2 linked regions of the Homo sapiens genome follow. The protein of the gene in region 2 purifies or fractionates together with the protein of the main gene of each other region. This does not show direct contact. Each region holds a gene or a part of one and is shown on either strand. Other genes may lie near its edges.

Region 1 (3,136 bases), on a different chromosome or scaffold from region 2:
GCAGAGGTGTCGAAAAGGCGATCGATCATGTCGCCCACCTGCTCCACCCCGTACTTGATGTACTTCTCCGGGTTCTTGGTGAAGGGCACGCTGCCAAACCTGAGGAGGCACTGTGGTCAGGGGACAGGGAGGGCCGACCCCTCCCCAGCTCCACCCTCAGCCTAAGGCACTCCTGATAGTCTTGGAAGGGGTGGCCCTGAGCGATTCCCTGTCTGGCCCCGCCCCAAAGCCCAGGTCGCTGGATCTGCTGCCTAAATCCACCACCCTTCTCCTTTTTCCCTTGAGGAAGAGGAGCTTGAAGAGGCCCACTGGGGCTGTGGGCAGCACAGGCTGGGAGGGGAATGGAGGCCTCACTTCTGTAGAAAGGCCCCGTAGGTCTCCTTGACAATGGTCTTCTGGGCCTGGCGAATCCTGTCCCTCTGCTCTGTGTCTGGAATAGCCCAGGCCTTCTGGATTTTGCACAGTTCTTCGAGGCCATCATTGAAGCCCTGGCCACCAAAAAGGTGAAAAAGGAAGGCACCCAGAGACAAACATTTTGGGTCTGTGTTGCCTCAACAGCAGCAGCAAGCAGTGGAGGGGAGAGGACCCCGACTCACCTTAAAACGCTCCTTGATAATCTGCCGCTCCTTGTCCCGGAGCTGGGAAGCCAGGAGAGATAGCAGAGAAAGCTCACTTCAGAGCAGAGCAGCCTTCCCCCACTCTTCCCCAAACACCCTTGGTCTGGGCCTGTCTCCTGTGTCCTGATGGCCACATGCATCCTTTGCTCTCTGATCCCAGAGGGATGCTTGTCCACTTTTTCCCAGAGACACGACAAAAAGTATCCCGTCTGCCAGACACCCCTTCCCAGCCCAGGTCTTGAGCCCACCTTGACTCCCGGCTGGAACACAGGTAGATTCTTCTCTGCGATGTAATCAGTCACCTTTAACCAGCTGCCAGACAGAAAGAGAAGCATGAGGGCAGAGGGTGGCCTGCCTCAGTGGCCTGGCTTGTTTCGTTTGCTAAATCTCTGGATCTACTTGGTGGGTGGTGGTAGGAAGGGATGTGGGTCACAACTAAGCAAACAACAGGTTTTCTTCCTGGGAAGAGAAAATCTTTAAACTGGTCACTTTTTGAGATAACATTAGGAAACACTTGAGTGTTCAATAAATTGGACAAATACTGTCAACTATACTTCACATCAATATCGTGGCAAACTAAGATGGAGAAACAGATGAGAAAGAAAGGAGTGGAGGGCAGATAAATGAGAAGGAAGAGGTAGACACATTCAAAGGGAAGAAACAAAGCCAGGAAGAAAGAGGACCAGAGAAGCAGCGGGATCCTCACAGAGCAAGGCTCAGCCACGTTCAAGTGCTCTCGCGACCTTGCTCTTCTCCTAGGTAAACATTACCCACGTCTCTGAGAGCCAGCTCTTCAATCATTCTTAGCCTTGACACTTGGCAGACTCCCCTCTAAAGTGGCCATAGTGGGCCCCTAGGAGCAGGTAGTGGTAGAGGAGGGGGCTTCTCTCTCCACCCCGTGAGTTTGATTAGAAACCAAGTGGAGGATTAGGGTCCAGAGGACAGGAGTTCCCCGTGACCGACTCTGTGTCCTGAGGTGCTGAGAAGGAAGAGTGCGTGGTGGCACAGGGGCCCATGCAGGAGCAGGGCGGGCCCAGCCTCTCACCTGCGCTGGTAGGTCTGGATCTGCTGCTCAATGTGCTCCCGGTAGGAGCGCTCAGCAGTCTTCTGTGTCACTGCCACCAGCTGGATCAGTTCAGACCTGGGTCGGGGTAGGGGACAGAGGAGAGGAGGACAGGATTGGCTCCTCAGGCCCAAAGGCTGCGGCAATGCCGGGAGGGCCTCCCATTGCACCCCAAACTCCACAAGCTCTATGGCATCCCACCTTCCGGGTCCTGGGGTGGAGGAGACTGAAGCACCCCCTCCCCTCTCGTCCACAAGAGAAGGAGCCCAGGGGGGCAGGGGCTGGCACAGCTGCACAGCCGAGGGGAAGGTGAGAGCCGCAGACTCACTCCCGCAGGCCACTTACTTCTCCAGGGACTTGAGGATGTAATTGTAGTTGTTGTGCAGGAAGATGGCGCTCAGAGCTGGGTCCTCGTACACCTTGGACTTGCTCAGCAAGTTCAACTGCAGGTTGCCCAGCACTTTACCTGCACAGGGAAAAATGGGGCCACACCCACCATGGCAGTCTGACCCAAACGACCCCACCCCAGGACCCGCGAACGCGCTCCTATCCATCGCTCCTCGTCCTGCCTCAGGAGGCCTTAGCCCAACTCCCCTCAGCCTCTGAACTAGAGGTCAGGTTGTGGTTCCAAAGATCAGATGGCACTTAGGAGAGGGCCCTGGGAATAGCCAGAGAGCACAGACAGAAGGAAGGGAAAGGCAGGGCATGCAGGCAGCAGGGCTGCTGGTCTGCCCGGGAGAACACTCACAGATATAGGTGCTTAGCAGCCGCTTGCTGAACTCAGAGCTGTAGCTGGTGGCCGAAGAGCTGGTCTCTGTGAGAGGAGAAGTCCTGTTATTGCAGTGGCAGCAGCCAAGACCCTCAACGGCCCTTCCCCCAGGCCATGCAGCAGTCTGAGGGGACACTGAGACAGGCCCTGGGCTTCCTTGGGCAGAGCTGGCTGCCTGCTAAGCCACAGGGTGGCCCCTGCCGCAGGAAGCACCAGCCCTGGAGTTTTTGGAACCCAGAGCTGCCCTCTATGATGGGATGGAGCTGGCCCATGTCAGCAGAAAAGCTGGCAGGAAAAGAGTGAGATGCCAGCGCCCTGTCCCCTCCTGCCCCCACCCACCCTGGGTGGTTTCTACAAGGCCCCCTTTTTCCTTTTGTCAACAGCAGAGTCTTAGAATGGGCTCCCCACAGCCTCTCCACCTTCTCCCCTACATTCGAACATCCCCTCTACCAGACCCTACTGAACAGACGAAGCTGCGGCCTGCACAGTGGGGAAGGCCGAGTGGGGACAGCAAGGCAGGGAGGCCGGGCGAGCCTAGGGGGTGTATCCAGGGCTCTAGCCTGGGCAGGTGCTGCGGATAAGCTCAGAGACAGAGTGGCCTTGAAGGGAGCAGAGAGAGTTGAGAGCACCCCGAGAAAACTCATGTCCCCTCTGACTCAGGCTCCCCAGTAGGTACTGAGAGTCAGT
Region 2 (3,500 bases):
GTGGGAGCCCTTTCTCTCCTCTCCCCAGGGCCCACACGTCCCAGAGCATGGCAGGTTTCTCGGATGGAAGAGAGTGGGTCACTCTTGGTGCAGGGTGGGAGATACGAAGTCGGGGGTTCAGGAGGCCCCAGGTGGGCCCTGGGGTCCTAGGTCACGGGAAGCACACCAAGAGCGAGCAGGCAGGGTCACTGTACAGGGCGGAGAGGGGAGGAGACGGGACACGGGAGGCTGCAGGGCCGGCCACCCACTACTTGGCGCCATCATCCGGGTTGCCTTCACCGTCCGTCTTGCCCTCCTCCTCGGTCTTCAGGTCATCTGTGCTCAGCTTCTGCTCTTTTTTTCTCCTCACACACTTGACCACCATCAGCACCAAGATGACCACAGCCAGGAAGCCCCCGACGGAGGCACCCACAATCACGGCCACCGTGGAGTCCCGCTCAGGGGGCTCTGGAAAGGAAGCAGAGCCACTGAGCACCAGGGCTGGGAAAGGGGCCTCCCCCATCACCCCACTACCCGTGGCATGCGTGGAACCATCCTGACTTTACTCTCCTCCACAGACAGGACTTTAGCAAAGCCGAAAAGCAATCCAGTGACTGACCCTGAAGCGCCGCCACCTCCAAATCCCAGGACACCCAAAGCCCCCAGAGGAGCTAGTGTGATGAAGTATTTAAGAGCATGAACTTTAAGATCAAACAGACCCAAATTTGAGTCCTAATTGTACAACTTACGAATTGCGTGACCTTAAGTAACTTATCCTCTCTAACCTCAGTTTTCTAACATGTAAAATGGGCTTAATAATAGTACCTCCCTCAAAGGTTTTCATGAGGATGAGATAATGCATAAACAGAGCTTAGCCCTATGACTGAGACATAGAGGTGCCCAATAAATGAAAGCTGCCATCATCACCATCATTATTATTGCTGTTGTTGTCATTTGAAACAGGGTCTTGCTCTGTTGCCCAAGCTGGAGTGCAGTGGCACAATCATGATTCACTGCAGCCTCTACCTGCTGGGCTCAGATGATCCTCTCACCTCAGCCTCCCAAGTAGCTGGGAGTATAGGTGCAAGCCACCATGCCCAGCTAATTTTTGCATTTTCTGTAGAGATGGAGTTTTGCCATGTTGCCCAGGCTGGTCTCGAGCTCCTGAGCTCAAGCTATCTGCCTGCCTCAGCCTCCCAAAGCGCTGTGATTACAGGTGTGAGCCATCACACCAAGCCCCATTATTAAGACTGGGATTATATTCTGTATCATTACCAGGACTCTCTGGGACATGTTCCCAGGTTCTTGAGGACTAGAGGGAAGAAAATGGATTCCTTCTATGCAGCACAAATGGTTGCTCCCATCCTCAGGAGGGCCTGGCCTCCCCAAAGTGCCCTGAGCAAATGCCGCAGAGAGTAGGTGGGTGGGAAAGGTCAGGGCCCCGCAGCTGGCACCCCAGCCTTCACCTTCCATGAGGACCTGCAGATGGATCTTGCCATGGCCACGGTGGCGGTCAGGGGGGTTCATGATGTAGCAGTTGTAAATCCCCTCATCCTCCGGCTGCACGTTTCTCAGCATCACCGACACATCGTACTTGCTGGGGTTCCCTGAGAACTCCACGCGGTCTTGAAACCGCTCCAGCTTCAGGTTAATGATCTTCATGCGGAACTGGAGGAACTGGGGTTGGAGCAAGGGACAGGATGGGTGGCTGGATGAGCAAGGAACTACAAGGACAGTGAGGATGCCCCCTCTTCCCATCCACCCTTTTCCTGGGGAAGAGAGGCAGTTACCTCTGTGAGGCACCTGGATGCGCAGCACACCTTGTTTCAAGAGCCTCCAGAGCACGCAGCCCACCCAGGGTCCTCTGGGGCCCTAGCGCAGTGCCGGGGCCGGTGGTGGGACCAGGGGCTTCATGCCATGGGGCTCCTACCTCCTCCCCTGCCCCTGCCTTCAGCCCAGGACTCACCATCTCCTCAGAGCAGTTGTTGCACTCCTGGTAAGTCCAGTTCAGGGAGAACTGTTTGTGGTTCACTGTGTAGCAGGAGTTGAAGGTGCAGGGCAGGCGGGCGTCAGAGCCATTGAGGACGTTGAGGGTGGCAGGTACTGTGACCTCCATGCTCCGTCCTGGTGGCACTGCAGATGAAGCCACAAGCTGGTGAGGAGTCTGGCTGAAAGGGCTGGGGAGGGGCAAGCCCTCTGTGCCTGGGAGTGTTGGGGGATGAGGCAGAGCAGAGCCACAGGGAGGGGACTGGGTCCCTGACAGCTCCAGTTAATCAGGAGGTGGGAGTTACTGTTATTTGCAACAGGGTCTCTGTTGCCCAAGCTGGAGTGCAGTGGCGCAATCATGACTCACTGCAGCCTAGACCTGCTGGGCTCAGGTGATCCTCTCACCTCAGCCTCCCAAGTAGCTGGGAGTACAGGTGCAAGCCGCATGGAATTGGACTTCGTTCTTCCTGGCAGGGGCCCACTCAGCCTCCCCAGTCCATACTCCTGGAGTGGGCAGGCACATATGGGGCACCAGATGTGGTCTTTGGGGCAAAGCGGGGCCACAGAGCAGGTAGGGGAGGAGAGAAACCAAATCGTCACATCATCTATATCTGTCAAGCCAGGGGCAGCCAAACGGCCTCAAGCCTTTTCTAGAACCACTGTTAGGCACCCCTGCCCCCACCACACTTGCCCCAGTTCTGTCACATGCCAGCAGAAGACCACAGACAAGGGGCTTCACTATGCTTGCCTCAGTTTCCCCCTTATTCTCACCACTTCTAACCATCTTTGCTGGGCCAAAACCCTTCCAGCTGAAACTGCAGGGCTCCCCTGCCGTTCTGTTCTCAGGACAGCAGACTGAGAACAGCTGGAGATTTGGAAGGCCTCGCTCTCCATACCCCAGGGACAGAGCAAAGCTGTGTCCCAGCCCAGCCCAGCCCCCTACCTTCCTCAGGCTTGCAACAGACAAGAAAGAGGGCAGACAAGCTGTGGGAGGGAAGAGGTGCCCCAGAAGGTGAGGCACCATTCCAAGGACCAGCTGATGGGTCTGCAGGGACAGGAGTCCCTCTTGAAGATGTCAACCTGGAGACACCACAGCAAGGAGCTGCTACAGGCAGGCAGGGTGGGAGCTGCTGGTTCTGCAGAGTCCTATTAGGAACACCAGACTGAGGCCAGGAGACTTTGGTGCTGGGGCTGAGAAAGGCCTGTCCCACTCCGACATTCTAAGCAGGACAGAGCCTACAGGGAGGCGAGCGAGGGGCCTGGGGCAAGACACTTAAGGGGCATCCACTGCCTGGTCATGGAAATACCTCCTTAAATGTCACGCCCTAGGCACCTCACTGGACTCACCTGAGCCCTGGCCTTCATTCCAAGATGCTCTGCCCGTATCCTCAAGAACCTTATCTCAGAAGATTCCTTTTCTTTATGGAGGATAAACAGCAGTGTTCAGCATCATTCATTCACTCATTTACCAAATATTTATAAATCACCTACTGTGTGCCAGGCACTTAGTCTAGGCCCTGGGGGTTACTGCTGTG

Evidence for each region. The genes of interacting proteins can lie anywhere in the genome.
Region 1: the proteins of SCN2B (region 2) and EXOC7 purify together in Homo sapiens (affinity purification with mass spectrometry; 4 studies listed by BioGRID and IntAct, with this or other methods). This does not show direct contact.

Annotation. Positions count from the first base shown.
Region 1 is NC_000017.11:76,083,652-76,086,787, forward strand, and holds part of EXOC7 (exocyst complex component 7), read right to left. Parts: intron 2,495-3,136; coding exon 2,429-2,494; intron 2,147-2,428; coding exon 2,026-2,146; intron 1,759-2,025; coding exon 1,663-1,758; intron 930-1,662; coding exon 866-929; intron 639-865; coding exon 597-638; intron 489-596; coding exon 355-488; intron 100-354; coding exon 1-99. UniProt on the Homo sapiens protein: Component of the exocyst complex involved in the docking of exocytic vesicles with fusion sites on the plasma membrane.
Region 2 is NC_000011.10:118,166,640-118,170,139, forward strand, and holds part of SCN2B (sodium channel regulatory subunit beta-2 precursor), read right to left. Parts: intron 2,113-3,500; coding exon 1,946-2,112; intron 1,657-1,945; coding exon 1,446-1,656; intron 448-1,445; coding exon 248-447; 3' UTR 1-247. UniProt on the Homo sapiens protein: Regulatory subunit of multiple voltage-gated sodium (Nav) channels directly mediating the depolarization of excitable membranes.